2 separate regions of the Homo sapiens genome follow, and region 1 is linked to region 2. Evidence: fine-mapped expression QTL. A gene starts in region 2. The other region holds a variant in brackets. All regions are shown on one strand. Distances are between the middles of the regions.

The links. PIP is the estimated chance that this variant, and not a neighbour inherited with it, causes the effect.
Region 1: its variant is the best candidate, but not a certain one, in a credible set for the expression of NEFL in esophagus mucosa (GTEx, PIP 0.63).

Annotation. Positions count from the first base shown.
Region 1 is chr8:24,923,206-24,931,537 of GRCh38, forward strand. It overlaps LOC112268023 (a long non-coding RNA gene), which reads right to left and starts at 1,505. Exons shown (of 3, transcript XR_002956698.2): 1 at 1,385-1,505. The variant T/G (reference allele first, on the strand shown) is at 3,141.
Region 2 is chr8:24,953,070-24,961,401 of GRCh38, forward strand. It overlaps NEFL (neurofilament light chain), which reads right to left and starts at 3,543. Exons shown (of 4, transcript NM_006158.5): 1 at 2,403-3,543; 2 at 1,112-1,236; 3 at 407-726. The coding sequence starts at 3,446. It overlaps MIR6841 (microRNA 6841), which reads right to left and starts at 798; the gene lies at 727-798. RefSeq lists an enhancer at 1,094-2,293.

The DNA of each region.
Region 1 (8,332 bases), 30 kb before region 2:
TGGTGAAACCCCGTCTCTACTAAAAATACAAAAATTAGCCCGGCATAGAGGCAGGCACCTGTAATTCCAGCTACGTGGGAGGCTGCGGCTGGAGAATTGCTTGAACCTGGGAGGCAGAGGTTGCAGTGAGCTGAGATCGTGCCACTCCACTCCAGCCTGGGCGACAGAGTAAGACTCCGCGTCAAAAAAAAAAAAAAGTTTATTGATGGAAATTATTTAAAACCATATTAAGAGTAAGAGAGAGAAATATTTTTGTGCTAGGCCTCTGAAGACATGAAATTCCCAGATCCATGCTAACTGTGTTCAACACCATAATGCAGGGCTTTCAGGATTCTCTTTGACTTATTTGAGGTATTTTGAAAAGTTACCACATCATATCTTCAATAAGGTATTCATTTTAGGTAATGCTCCTTAAATCATTCCCTAACTCTAATTAGCGTTCTTATCTTAGAAGAGAACAGAGTTGAAAAAAAATTAACAGCCGACTACATAAAAAGGCTTTTTTTTAAGCTTATGAAAAGCATAATCATTCTAAAGGGCTAAGTAGGAAGGACCACTTACATAGGCCCATGCTATAGTCTTGTTTTGTATGTGGGTGGGTGAGGTGGGTAGTGGGAGGAGAACAGAAAATCAAGGGCCCCAGAATTCGAGTGACAACATTGTGTCCAGAAGGCAAACACCGGGAATTTTTGATTCTGCATTGAGATCACAAGATCACAAGTCAGGGGCCAACTTCAAGTATCATAGGTTCTACTTTTGGTGTTCTCACATTCCTAAGAGAGTAAACCCTGACAACAAAAAGAGATAAGGACTGAAAAGGGCTCCTTTTCCTATTGGTTCTCAAATTTCAAATAAATTTCGGTGAGGAGGGTAAAATTACTGGTTTGCATTAGTGCTTTGGAATATGCTTAATTGTAATTGCTCATCATCTCTTCTGGAAAATCACAGATTAGTTGAAACCACGGAGTATAGCACAAAGAGCCTTCTTTGCCCTGGGATCTAGAAGGTTGGGCCCTCTATACAAGTGACAACACCTCCACACCTCCCATTTTAACTTGGAAAATTCAAGTGTATGTTGAATTCTGTGATGATGCGTTTATATCTTCCTCGATTCATATGTCAAAAACTTACTCTTATCCAAAAACAGTAATTCAGCTTAAGGAGAATTTGCACTTAAAATACTGTGTGCTAACATTTGGAAGAACAAAAAGTTAAAAGTTATTAACTTTTGGGCGGGAAACAGTGGCTCAGCACATTGGGAGTGTGAGGTGGGAGGAGATCGCATGAGCCCAGCAGTTGGAGACCAGCCTGGACAACACTGGGAGACCTGCTCTTTACAAAAAATAAAAAGAAAAATAAATTAGCCAGACATGGTGCCGTGTACCTGTATTCCAGCTACTCAGGAGACTGAGGTGGGAGAACTGCTTGAGCCTGGGAGGTCGAGGCTGCAGTGAAGCATGATTGTGCCACTGTGCTCCAGCCTGGGTGACAGAGCAAGACCCTGTCTCAAAAAAAAAAAAAAAATTTACTTTTATCTATGTAAGTATATAATGTATGAATATCAGCAAGAGAAATAGAAAACTGACCTCCCTCTTCCCCAGATTTCTTTCTAACTATGGCTGCCTAGTTACTTCTGAACTGGACTTCTCAGTGGCCCCAAATAAAATTACAAATATAAGACACAGAATAACAATGTCTGACAAATAGTAGGCACTTAATTAGTGGTAAATTTTCATTGCCGTCATTAATATTCGTTTTAAAAGTAATAACTGGCCAGGCGTGGTGGCTCACACCTGTAATCCCAGCACTTTGGGAAGCCGAGGCAGGCGGATCATGAGGTCAGGAGATCGAGACCATCCTGGCTAACACGGTGAAACCCCGATTCTACTAAAAAATACAAAAAAGTAGCCAGGCATGGTGGTGGGCACCTGTAGTCCCAGCTACTTGGGAGGCTGAGGCAGGAGAATGGCATGAACCTGGGAGGCAGAGCTTGCAGTGAGCTGAGATCGCACCACTGCACTCCAGCCTGGGCAACAGAGTGAGACTCCATCTCAAAATAAATAAATAAATAAAAATAAACAAATAAATACAAGTAATAACTAAAATAGCCATGTATATTAATTACCATGTCAATAAGAGATACACACAAAAATTAAACCTGTAGCAAAGCTTCAAGAAGTAGAAGAGTAGATACCTTCGCACTAAACTTTACTTACTATATATATGCTACTCAGAATCATAAAACCCTAAAGGTTGAATTAGCTGATAATATTTAACCCACATTTCTTATGCCTAAAAAGCAGCTGCCTAACCTATAATTGAATATCTACAGTGACAGGGAAGTTACTTTGCTGCAAGCCATCCCAACAGATAACTTGGACTGTTTGCAGTCCAACTTCTTTACATTGTTCTAATCTCTGATCCCCTGTAACGTTCACCCACTGATGCAAATTCCAGGGAGTCATATAAATCCTACTTCCCTTTTCCCCAGAATGGACTTTCAGAGAGATGAAGGTAGCATAGTGTGGATATTTGTCCCTTCCAAATCTCATGATAGGAGGTGTTTGGGTCATGGGGGCGGAACCTTCATGAATAACTTGGTGCTGTCCTTGCCACAGTGAGTGAGTTCTCATGAGATCTGGTTGTTTAAAAATGTGTGGCATCTCCCACCTCACTCTCTTGCTCGAGAACTCTCACGTAATATATTGGCTCCCCGTTGCCTTCTGCCATGATTGTAAGCTTCCTGAAACCTCAGCAGAAGCAGATGCCAGCACAAATGCTGCTTATACAGCCTGCAGAACTGTTAGCCAATTAAACCATTTTTCTTCATAAATTACCCAGCCTCGGATATTCCTTTAGAGTAACGCAAATGGACTAAAACAGATGGCCATGTCCAAATCCAAGCAGCTCATAGCAGTAGTGACCATTGTTGAGTTTACTACCTACCAGGTACTCTTCTAAGCACATCACCTGTAATTAATCCATGATTTCTCATAACAAACATACATGCAGGTATTATTTTTAACACCATTTTTTTGCAGAAGTTTGGGCATAATAAACCCAGGCTTTTTTTATATCAAACCCATGACTTTTCTACTTTATACTTTAATAGACAAAACAGCAAACATATGTAACTACAC[T/G]TGTTCACCCTTGGAATGAACCTTCTACCTGTTGAGCCGAGCCAGTCTCAAGTAGTCCCCATTCTCCAGTTTTTCATTTATGTCAAAATTAACTGATCTGGGGAAGTGTTACTTTAAAACTCATTGCTATATAGATGGCAGGAATTTTAAACTCAACAATGAGTTACCCTAGGTTACAGTCTAGGTTTCACTAATCTGTGCCTGGATATATAACACTATTTTGTGGTATCTTCTTTACAAAATAAAATAAATTAAAATTCTGATTGGCGCATGAGCTATTTCATGTCTCTATTTTTCCATTTCTCAGATTCTTAAGTAGACAATGCCCTAACAAATAAGTTTTTCTTCTAGTAGTTATTCACCCATAACACATAACCAGTTTCATGGGGAGCAGCAACATGTATCTGCCTATCGCCTTTGATTGACACTTTGTTCTTCAGCGATAGCAACGAAGGAAGTATTTAGGCTGGATTAAAGTGATTAAGCATCAAGAGAAATTATTTCTATGCATCAGCAATTAGACAGGTTTGGACAGTTCTAATAAAGAATGCCTTGAATGTCACATGTTAGAAATTTGGACAAATTTGTATGGCACTTTCACATCCTACGCACTGTCATCTGTTACTATCATAGTTTGAGATTAAATTTCCTTTGCTGGGCATTGTTGATTATGAAGCTTAATAATCACCATGTTCCTGGGAAAGCAGTTGACCATGTCCACCCACTGAGTTCATTCCCTTGGCATATTCGAATGAATATTACCATTAGAAGGAAATCGTGTGTCCATGACATTTGCAGAGCTAATGCCGATCTCCATTCTTCATCAGCCACCCATTAAATATGCCATAAATGATTCTAAAGTAACACTTTCTCATTGGCAATTAGCAAACTGCTTTGCCAATTCTTTGTCAGGAATTTGCTTACAGGATTTGCTCAAGAAAACACATGAATTTCAAAATCACCATCGAGACATATGAAAAAGTAAGGCCAAGGAAGGAAAAGTGAATGAAGTCACCCAAAGTATATGCTTCCTCCTCAACTTTGGTGGACAGAAGTGTTAGGGGAAAAGGAGCACATGAGAGCCAGGGTGCCATCATTTGAAAATCAACTCCATCTTAAAACTAGCAAGGCACATTCCTCACCAGTCACAACCCATGGTCATAAGATGTTTATGGCTAAGGAAGCAGCTTAGTCATGACAGCAAGGACAAACTTCTGTGACAGCAGAATGTCCAGATGTACCAATACTGATGGCAGCAGTGAGCCATCTGCCATCACACTGGCCACTACAGGGAGGGCGCAGGAGGAGGCAGACAGCACCCTCCCCCCAGCAGCTTCTGCCCTGGGGCCGCTGAGATAGGGCCAGGCCAGGTCACGTGCCTGGTGAGGGGGAGCTTTCCAGGTGCAACTGCAGCCGCCCCAGTCACAGCTGCAGCCCAGGCACCCCTATTCTCTTGGGAGCCAGGAGCACACAGAAACCCCACCCCCCACCCTGCGTAGGTGCAGCCACCCAAACCAAGGCTGCAGACCCAGGCCTCCCTGCACTCTTGCACTTGCAGGCTTGGAAGTGACTGTTCCTGCTGCCTGGCCTCTCCCTGGCACGCGCTTCAATCTCGGACCAGAGTTGGGGCCAAACCCAGGTGCTGTCACAACCTGGCTGTGTATGCACATGCTTGGGGAAGTGTTGACATGCCAGCCTCCTGCCATCTTGGCCCCCTCCAGACTTTGGGTGCTGATCAGCTGAGGAGCATGAGAGGGGAAGCTGAGGGGAGCTGAGGGCAGCTAGGTGCTGCCCTGCAGGTGTCCCTTGGTGCAATAGATGGTTGTGGGAGGCAGACAGGCTCCTGGGTGGAAGTGGGTAGATCCCCAATGAAGCCTCACCTTCAGGCTAGGGCACGCCTGAAGCCTGGAGGCTGGGCTGCCAGTCCTGTAGAAAGGAGGGGGAACTCATGGTGCTTTATCCTAGGCCCACTCGTGGCTGCCCATGGACCAATTAGCATGCACTTCCCCTCTCTGAGGCCTGTAAAAGCCGCAGGCTCAGCCAGAACAGAGCAAAGGACAGGACAACCAGCTGCAAAGAGGAGTTAACCTCCCCAGGACCTCCTCTCTGCTGAGAGCTGCAGACCAAACAGGACCACCTGCCTGCAGAGAGGAACCACCCACTCCAGGGCCTCCCCTCTGCTGAGAGCTGAACACTGAATCAGATGACCAGCCTACAGACAGGAGCTGCCCCCTGTGTGTCTCCTCCGAGCTGTTCTAACACTCAATAAAGCTTCTCTTTGTCTTGCTCACCCTCTACTTGTAAGCATACCTCATTCTTCCTGTACACAAGATAAGAACTCAGGCAAAGGTGCCTCCAGCCACAGAGGTTTCTGGCCAGAAAAGTGATACACTAAAGATCCCATAACTTTAAAGATAAAGTTATGTGATACACTATCACATAACAGTGTGTGCTTTTATGATAGCTATAGTCATGCTTTGATGTACTTACTCACTAAAATGCCAAGTAAAACTTTCTTTAAGTCAACAAAGTAATAAATGTTGTCATGCTCTCAGTCCACCTAAACATAGACATAGCTTACTTTTACATAGATAAGACCCCTACATAAGGAGAGTTTAAAACAAAGATGGCATATTCCTCCTCTTGCTTTCTGAGGATGGCCTACTCTGTTACTGAGCAGCTTCAATAAACTCTGTCTTCTCACTGTACTCAAGGACTTGCCCTTAATTCCTTTCTGCATGAGAGCCAAGAACTCTCTCTTGGGGTCTGGATTGGAATCCCTTTTTCTGGCAACAGATGTGAACAAGATATTGCTTGGGAGAAATGAAAGATTTGTCAAAGAATGAGAATAGTTAACAACATTAAAGACATGTACCTTGCCCACATTAACAGCCTATAACTCCATGTGTTATCAGAAAAGAAAAACATAAATATTCACTGCCAAGCTAATATATATTTCAGGGCTTGGCATGCCATATCATGATACCATTCAAGATACTGTCAAGGAACACCAATGTCCACATTCCATCAGTACAATATCCCTACCCCTCTTGCTGTCCATGACAGCAGGGCCACTAACTGGAATGCTGTCTCTCCACAGAGACCCCCAACCTCCAGCCTGTCATTACAAAGGATGGGTCTAAAATGTCACATTTAGAACCACTGAAAACTTGAAACTTTTTTCCATTTCCATCCCTCTTAGTGTCATTAATCAAACAGAGCCTCTTTCATATTATTTACTTGGCTGTTCCTCAAATCTCTTCAGACAACCAAAACAATCTAGAAAGTACAGTGTAGCTTTTAAGAACACAGATTTTGATGTCCAATTAGATCTTGGTTCAACTTCCAGTTTTAAACTTCCTAGTGGACTTAGCATGTTAGGGGCCAGTCAAGGGGAGGAGAAGGAGGAAGAGGAGGAGGAGGAGGAAGAGGAGGAGGACAAAGAGGAGGAGGAGGAGGAGGTGAAAGAACATTCTAAGAGCTCCAGAGAGAATGGAATGTAATACAAGGAAATATACCACAAGTTAAGGGAAAGGTAAGAAGCAAATTCAACTCTAGTCAGTGTGGGCTGCCATAACAAAATATAGACTTGGTGACTTAAATGACAGAAAGCTCTGGGTGATAGCACAGTCAGTTTCTGGTGAGGGCTCTCTCCCTGGCTTGCAGAGGGCCACCTTCTCATCATGTCCTCACATGACAGAGCAAGAGTGAGCTCTCCAGTGTCTCTTTTTATAAAGACACTAATCCAATCAGATCAGGGTCCTACCCTTAAAGCTCATTTAGCCTTATTTACTTCCTTAAAGGCCCTATATCGAAATACAGTAACATTGGGAGCTTAGGGCTTCAACATATGAATTTGGGGTGGGGGAGAGGGAACAGTTCAGTTCATCACAGGGGATAATGGGGCAACTCAGAAATTAGCAATGGAAAAAAGCCATTATCACCTCTGGGGTTGCAGCACACAAGAAGTAGATGTTGCTACCAGAGACCAGAACCCAGGATCATCCAGAGGGAGCTAGAATTATGGCAGCAGGGGCAGCCTGGTGAGAACTGAGACCATGGAGGGGAGAGGTGTCCAAGGGAAGTCATACTCAAGAACTCAAGCAGGAAAAGGAGACACTACCTCTGCTGGACGTGGGGCCTGAAAGAAAGGTGGGGAGGTGATGGTGGCAGGTATTCTCTGATTTGTCCCTCCTCCCTTTTCTACCCTTTCTCTGGTTCCTCCCATGACCCAGTAGCATATGCAATCTAATCAAGAAGGGAGCCTGAACTATGCAACTCCTGTGATAAAGAGTAGAGCAGGGTCAGTGTGAGAAATTGAGCTGAGAACAAGCATTGAAAGATGACTGGCACACTCACCATGTGACTTTAGGCGACTCATCCTACTTTTCTTCACATCCCTTTTCTCATCTGAAACATGGGGCCAATAAAAGATAATTTGATCACTGTTAAATCAAGTTTAGCCTAAAGCTGCCTCTTGGAATATTTTAAGTTTGGCCTGTGACAAGAAAATAAATCTTGGAGCCCCAAAAATCACTAAGCTAAAGGGAAAAGGCAAGCTGGGGACTGCTTAGGGCAAATCTGCCTCCCATTCTATTCTGCTCACTGAGATAAAAGCATATTTGATTGCCTCCTTTGGAGAGGCTAATCAGAAACTCAAAAGAGGCTGGGCATGGTGGCTCACATCTGTAATCCCAGCACTTTGGGAGGCCGAGGCTGGTGGATCACTTGAGGTCAGGAGTCTGAGACAAGCCTGGCCAGTGTGGTGAAACCCCATCTCTACTAAAAATACCAAAATTAGCCAGATGTGGTGGCACGTGCCTGTAATCCCAACTACTTGGGAGGCTGAGGCATGAGAATCACTTGAACCTGGGAGGCAGAGGTTGCAGTGAGGCAAGATCACACCACTGCACTCCAGTCTGGGCAACAGAGTGAGACTCCATCTCAAAGAAAAAAAAAAGAAGAAGAAGAAAAAGAAACTCAAAAGAATGCAACCATTTGTCTCTTTTCTACCTGTGACCTGTAAGCCCCCTCCCTGCTTTGAGTTGTTCTGCCTTTCCAGACCAAACCAGTGTTCCTCTTACATATGTTGATTGATGTCTGATGTCTCCCTAAACTGTATAAAACCAACCTGTGCTCTGACCACCTTAGGAACATGTTGTCAGGACCTCTTGAGGCTGTGTCACAGGTAT
Region 2 (8,332 bases):
TCCACTCTCTCCAAAAGCACATGTAACAGACAAAGCTTGCCATGAATAATTTGCCACTGAACACATATTTAAATCGAATGAGATCACTTCTAGGTATGGGAAGCTCTGCTCCTCTCCAAGACTTAACCTCAATATTTCTTTCATTATGTGTCTGGTATCTATTTTTGTTCTTTAGGACACCAACCTGCTGTGTTAAATGATTATATTAAAAAATGAAAATTTTGACCAATCACCTCATTCAGAGTAGATGCCTTAGGAAAGTTTTGCTAAACAAACAGAAAATTTATTTATGATTCTAATGTCATATATGAATAAATGAGCAAGGCTTCATTTGTCTTATCCACCTCCTAACAAATCTCCACACCCAGTTTACACTTGAAGTTGCAGGGGTTTTTTCTTATCATACCTTCTTCCTCTTCAGCTGCCTCCTCTTCCTCGGCCTCTTCCTTGTCCTTCTCCTCCTCCTCGGCTTCTCCTTCAGAGGGGGGCTCATCCTTGGCTTCCTCAGCCTTGGCAGCCTCAATGGTTTCCTCCACTTCGATCTGCTCCTCTTGGACATGGCTGGTGTAGTAGGACGGGAAGGAGCGGGTGGACATCAGATAGGAGCTGGTCTGTAAACCGCCGTAGGCAGATCGGCCAAAGACCTGGGAGCTCTGGGAGTAGCCACTGGTTATGCTTCCCACGCTGGTGAAACTGAGTCGGGTCTCCTCGCCTTCCAAGAGTTTCCTGGGGATGCAGATGCAAGGTGAGGTTAAAAAACACCTGTGTTTCACAACTTGCTCTGAGTACCCTAAACACAAAGGCAAGCAGGAGCAGGGCTGGGATTTATCAATACTTAATGCCTGGGGATCTTTTGATGGAGACCAGAAAAAATATAAATAAATCATCCTATTAGATTTAAAGTGTAATGACAAGATAAAAACAGGACTCCTAATTACAGGGTTAAATTCTTATATATCTAAATACCCTCTTCTTGGAAGAAGCCAAAAACTAACACTTCATTATTTCAAAAGGACTATTATTGAAGGTTTCTGATCCAACATAACTTTAAATGGGATCTGATTTTCTTCCTAAGGTTTAATGGCTGCTGTCTTTGCCCCTCTATTTTCACCTGTAAGCTGCAATCTCAATATCCAAAGCCATCTTCACGTTGAGGAGGTCTTGGTATTCTTTTAGGTATCGTGCCATTTCACTCTTTGTGGTCCTCAATTCATTTTCTAATTTGTTGATCGTGTCCTGTTTGAAGACAAAAATAAAACAAAAAAAAAATCCGAGCATAAATCCCTTCTATTATTTTACTGTAGTGTAGTTGCAAAGGCCTAGTTTCGATTAAAATCAAGGTGCACACCTTTGATAAAATCTCTCCTAGAATAACTTCCTGTATCTTTTGAAAAACCTTCATGCCTAAAATACCCAAGTTCATGAAGCCTGAGATGAAAAAAAAGATGGACGAAAATTCTGTTCTTCTGTTTCTTTACTTAATACTGTTTAATGATCATCATAAAATGCATGCAAACAGACTAAGTTGATAGAAAAACTGTGTCTCTCATTCACTGATTAACTCTTCTTTAGCTGGGTTACATGCCAGGAAACTAATGCCTTTCTTTATGAGAAGAAAATAGCCAGATGTAAACAAAAAAAAGAAAAAAATTATTTTCTATGAAATATTTCCTATGTATCTAAATTATTTTTTCTACTCCCCAGAAGAAGAAAAAAATTTCTACTCCCCAGAAGATGGAGATGTTTTAAAATGGAGATCTTTTTAAAATTGTATTTTTTCTACTCCCCAGAAGATGGAGATGTTTAAACAGAAATGTTGTAGAAGATTTTACACATAAAGAAAAAAAGAAAAAAAAAAGGTAAAAGGAAATGGTTTACTATGAACATCACTAGTTAACTACCTAAAACAATGTTGACTATTTTCCTGTCTACCTACTAAATAAAGGAAGGGAGTGGTTGGTAAAACTAGTCATAAAGCATGCTGGTCACAGTAATCCTTCAGAATTAATTGAGAGTTGTTCACTCTACTATTTATTAACTAGATGATCCGATAGTTGCTGCAAAGTAACTTGTGGTTAATGCAGGTCAGTAGAGAGCTGATCTCACTGCAGGCCGGAGGCAACGCCCAATTCCCACGTCTTCCCCTCCCCCACCCAACAAGGGCTGGGCAGCTTTAATGCGGAACGCCGGTGCAGCAGCACGGAGCACACTCCCAGACTACAGTGGCGCCCGCACTCACGCCCTTCAAGTGCCCCACCCCTCCCACACAGTGGCCAAGGAGCCAAGCCCTATCCCTAAGAGCTGCGTGCAGCCGCACCACCCCTGGTCTCCACTTTCTGGGCGCACCAACTCCCCCCCTTGCTCGAGTCCCCCGCCCCCCTGTGTTTCTGGCCGTGCCGCACCTGCATAGCGCTGATGTCGGCGTTCTGCTTGTCCTCCAGCTCCTGCAGCTGCTTCTCCAGCGCTTCATTCATGCCCCGGCATGCTTCGATTTCCAGGGTCTTGGCCTTGAGCAGACGACGGCTCTCGGACACCTCGTCCTTGGCGGCGCGCACGGCGTCGGTGTTCTTGGCGGCGCTCTCGGTCAGCACGGTGAAGCGGCTCTTGAACCATTCCTCAGCGTTCTGCATGTTCTTGGCGGCCAGCTTCTCGTACTGCGCGCGGATGTCCTTGAGCGCGGCGGAAAGGTCGGGCTTGGTCACGTCCATCTCCACGGAGATCTGCGCGTACTGGATCTGCGCCTGCAGTTCGGCGATCTCCTCTTCGTGCACTTTCTTCAGAAAAGAGATTTCGTCCATCAAGCTGTCGATGCGCTTCTCGAGCTCGGCGCGAGCGAGCGCCGCCTCGTCGGCGCCTTTGCGCGCTTCCATCAGCCGGCCCTCGGCGTCCTCGCGGCTCAGCACCTCCTCTTCATAGCGCGCCTGCAGGTTGCGCAGGGTCTCCTCCAGCCCTTCGCGCTCGCCCTGGAGCGCCTGCTTCTCGTTGGTGGCATCTTCCGCCGCCAGGCGCAGGTCGCGGATCTCCTGCTCGTACAGCGCCCGGAAGCGGGATGGCTCGGAGTGCTTCTGGCGCAGCACCAGCAGCTCGGCTTCCAGGACCTTGTTCTGCTGCTCCAGCTCGTGCACGCGCTCGATGAAGCTGGCGAAGCGGTCATTGAGGTCCTGGAGCTGCGCCTTCTCCTGCGTGCGGATGGACTTGAGGTCGTTGCTGATGGCGGCTACCTGGCTCAGGTCGAGGTTCTCCAGACTGGGCATCAACGATCCAGAGCTGGAGGAGTAGCTGCGGCGCACGGACAGCGAGGAAGACACCGGCGCCGAGTAGCTGGAGTAAGCTGAGCGTGCGGTGCTGTAGCCGCTGCGCACGCTGGAGATGTGCACCCGGGGCGTCTCCACGTAGCGCCGCTTGTAGGAGGTCGAGTAGTACGGCTCGTAGCTGAAGGAACTCATGGTGGCGGCCGGTGGCTCCCCGGCCCGCGGCGGCGGTGGGAGCCCGGAGAGAGAGGACAGGGGAGAGAGGGAAGGGGGAGGATGGATGGCTGTGTGCGGCTCGGCGCCGTTCTGCCACCCCTATTTATACGCCGGGAGGCTCCTGACGCAGCCTGCGATCGATCACGGCACGCCGGCCAGTGGGGGCAGCGCGCTGCTGCAGCCAAGGCGAGGATTCTGCGCAAAAGGGAAGGCGGGGTCGAGCTACGGCCCGAGGAGCTGCGGCGGTCGTCCTTTCCACTTTGCTCAGAGGGCCCTGATTTTCTCTGAGATCCCATGCCCCCTCACTCATTTCCCTTCTGTACTCACTCACGCAGCCCCTCCCGTCCTGCATTGCCCAGACCCCGTGACACTTGGATCCTTAAGTTGCCCCCAAAACAGGTTCTTGCTCCCTTTTGACACCCTAGTTTTCTGTATCCCGTCACCTCGCAGACACCCTGTCCCCCCAACTCGCCCTTTTCCCACCAGGAACCTCCTTAATTTTTTCCCTTGGTGTTTACGGTGATGGTGCGGCTAGGGAATTTTAGATACAAATAAATAGGCTAGGTTATGTGTATGCAGTATGTATGGAGAAGAGTTTTAATTTCTTTCTAGCTTTCTGGCACTTTCTGCAATTCATCTTCCTTTCTCCTGATTATTTTTCTTTTTCTTTAATGAGCTGCTTAACACATAGGGAATGTGCGCGCGAGTGCGCGCGCGCGCGCGCACACACACACACACACACACACACACTCGTGAAACTGCGGCACTACTGCAGGTATTGGTTTAGCATTTTTAAACCTTTACAGCAGTTAATCCGCCTGTTAGTGTTTCTAGATTTTCACATTTCTTAACTGAGAATGAAGCCGCAGATGGCTTTAACGTGTTGCAGTGTGTGGGTGGTGGAGGGCAGAGAAAGAGTTGGAAACACAGAGACTGACTTGCTGAGGCAGCCGCGCGCTCCGCAGCCGGGAGCTTCAAGCTGCCTGGATCCTCACCAAGCTAAATTCCTGCTTGCTACCACCAACCGCAGCACATTTAAAGTCCGCTTTCCTCTTTTTACACATGTGTAGCACACGACCTGATGATTTCGATAAGCCTTGCAGTTGGCTGATTTTCAGGGAAGCCGCTGCGGCCAGCCCTGAGCGCTGGGTGTGGTCTCTGGGGAGGAGAACTCGGCACCCAGGCTTCTTCAGGAACGGATAGAAAATAGCCATAGCCGCGTGACTCTTCCCCCGATACAATGTAATAACCCGAAAACAGATGCAGTCAGGAATGCATGGATTTCCTTCAGGAAGCACCCAGATGCTTGAAACTGGCGCACGCGGTAGCGCACGTGGATACAACCCTACGGTTTGCAGGGCATTTTCACACGCATGATGTTAGGAGTCCCCCAGGTTTCATGGAGGGATTGCAGAGATTTACACGAAACACCTAAGATTTATCTGAGCAAGCATTTAGTTTTTGTTTTATTTGTATATCGCAGCATTTGATGTGCAACTTATGTTTTTTTTAAGAGGCAAACTGAGGGGGAATATGGTAACTGTTTTCAAATAGAGAAGCCGGAATGGCTTCCCCTGTGATACTTGGAGGGTGAAGTATTTGCAGTGGTGCAGTTGCTTCTGGAGACATTTCACTCCTCTCCCGAGGAAAGGATGGGGTGAGGCTTATCCTCAGAGGCCCTTTCTCATCCCCCCCCCCAAAAAAAATACCTGTGATTGTGATAGCCCACCGTCCTCATGATAGACTGCAGCAGATAACTTTCCTCGGGTTTCTAAACAATGTCTGTTGTCGCAAATAATGCAAATTCACAAATATTGAAATTAGTAGTTTAAATCTATCAAGACTAAGTGATCTCAGAGGACCATCCATGCCCAAATATTCTAGATTTCAAGCCTAAGGTCATGAGGCTGTCCTGAATATTGTTTGTCCCTGGCAGGTTTGGTAGGGTACTTACTCTGTTGACTTTTCATAGCCTAGCTATCCTTGGTCTTTTCACTCATGAAATTCAAGGGTGGAATAGGCTTCTCTGGAGGCGGAGGGTGGAACAAGGACCCAGATAAGCCATAGAGTTGTCTCCTCCCAATTACCCATATGTAGATGAAGCATGGCAGAATGGATTATTTTGTTAACCTGCTCCCTGCAAACCTCATTGTTCCACACTCAGTGTGTGTGAGTCTGCATAAAACACACTCTCAGGTATTTATGAATTCGTTTCCTTTGTGCCAGCTGTCTTTCCCCGGAGTTTCAGGTCACCCTCAGATCTTAAGTCCATCAGCGTTTTTTTTCTTTCTTTCTTTCTTTTTTTTTTTTTTTTTTTTTCTTTTTTTCCGCGGCTCCTCCCTGAAGCCTTTGACTGCAGAGGAGGCTGCCCAGAAAGGAGAGGGGCGGCGGGTGCTGCAGAGGGATGCTTCAGAGAGAAGAAACCATTGGGGCACCTGCTGCCTGCCGTCCCCTGGGTAGCTGGAAAAAAGAGGAACACAGGAGCAAAGGGTGAGAATGGGACCCTTTCCTGTGCTGAACCCGGCCCACAGAGTGGGGGAAGGGGCAGATCCACAGCGTTTAGGCTTATCGATCTCTGGTCTTTTTAAATATCTCCTGGCCTGGCCACCTCATACTCCACGACAGCCTTGCTTTGCAGGACTCCCGAATCCAGCCGGGGTCTGAGTTTTGGTTACTCTATCTTCAGCCTTCCTCTGCCAGGTGCCTGCCTCTTCTTTAATATTCTGTCCAGTCATCCTCCTTTTTGAATCCTCTTTCCAGCATTTTGCTCTAAAAGCACACATGGCATTGCTTTGTGTGGCAAAGCAAAGTGAACAACTTTAGAAAACCTATTTAGGTAGAATATATATATTGACTTTTTCTTTCCCTCACCATAAATGTTTCTGATTAGTGCTGTTTGTAGTAGAGTCGCAGTCTCTTTAGAAGGAGGCTTTTGAGTCTTGTCACACCCTTATGCATTTATTCCCCTTTAAACATATTCTCTGCAAACCTGAACTTGGTTGAGGGCTATCAACAAAACATGCTCCTGGGAGATTAAAAATATGGAAGTATGTTGATGACCCCTTTAACAGAATTCCTACCACTCTGGTTATCCCTAATACTTCTGTAACCCTCCAAAGAACTGTCCCAGGTCATTTAGTTAAAAAGCAAATATCTTCACAGTAATAATAATAAAAAAAACATAAGGCATAACTCTTAGAACCACTGAAAACATTCTACTTCTCCAGTGCCAGCAGAGCCTGAAAGTTTCAGATAGATGGGACCTGGCGACTGATGACTTTTCATTTTATTATTCTAAAGCCATCTGAGAAAGCAGGAAGTTCTGTATTGGCATGTGTTTTTGAAAAGGTCAGCTTTAGGGTAGGGCCCATGAAAAGCCTCAGTCCAAGAGTCAAAAAAGTCAAGTTCTCCTACCACCAATAAGCTCTGGCAGAAGTCCTAGGACAGAACAGCGGATGAGTCGGCCGGGCGCAGTGGCTCATGCCTGTAATCCCAGCACTTGGGGAGGTCGAGGCGGGTAGATCACAAGGTCAGGAGTTCGAGACCAGCCTGGCCAATATGGTGAAAACCCGTCTCTACTAAAAATACAAAAAAATTAGCCAGGTGTGGTGGCACATGCCTTCAATCCCAGCTACTCAGGAGACTGAGGCAGGAGAACTGCTTGAATCTGGGAGGCGGGGTTGCAGTGAGCTGAGATCGCGCCACTGCACTCCAGCCTGGGTGACAGAGTGAGACTGCATCTCAAAAAAAAAAAAAGAAGAAAGAAAAGAAAAAGAACAGCCGATCAGCAGATGAGTCTCCATCCATCTCACCACCAGGTAGATACATCAGTGTCACCAAAGCTGGCATCGGTACGTGGATGCAAGGAAACCCAGTAAATAAATGCATGCAAGATACCTGCTATATGACAGGCATTTGCTATCTTGTATTGAATAATGACAAGATCACCTGGAGATGGTCACTATTATTCAGAGCAAACAGCTGAGGCCCAGAGAAGTAAGTAATTTGCCAACTCACACAGCTCCTTCAAACCTAAGCTCCACCTGCTTCCAGACTGAGGGTTCTACTCATTCCACAAACTGCAGCCATTGGCATTTACTGCTTCCTTATGTCTCTGTGGAATTTGATAAGCGAAGTCTGCCATCTGCAGAGTTTAGCGTGCATATAATAAACCTATCCTGCTTTGGGGACACCAATTTGAATTCTTCTGCACCATGAGGAAACCATTAACGAGCATGCTCCATTTGGGCAGCTAGTGGCAGCAAAAAACTACATGATTGTTGTAGGTTTCTCAAATATCCCAATGTAAAATAAAATGGGTGTGGCCAGTGGAACATGACACATAACTGGCACTGTAACATTTTACATGCAACTCTAAACATCAATTTACAAAACACCCTTTCAGGAATTAATAAGCTAAAATGCAAATTAGCTGACCTAACTCTTTAAAATGGCCACATCACGACTTCCACTTTTTTTTTTTTTCTGATTACAGTATCTTCATTTTCCACCCTTGTAAATGGGTTTTCTTTGGAAACGTGCCCTTAAAAGTTGCTCTAAGGAATAAAAGAAAAAAATGCTGGCACTGAACACCTCATTATTGGAGTTTATAATGCTTTCTGCAAGTCTTTAACTTTCTCCAAAGCAGCATGAATAAAGTCAACAGAAATGTATAGCTTGTTGAAATCACAAAGATCTTTCATCTCTGTTTCTTGTAGCCAGTTTATTTCTTTGTATATTTTGCTCACGACAGGAATCATACGTGAGTCTCCTTCATCTCTTGGGAAATATGTTTGTTTGAAAGAAAACTTTTCCCATTTTATTATCAAGTATGTCTATTTTACAGCACCATATTTTGAAGCGAT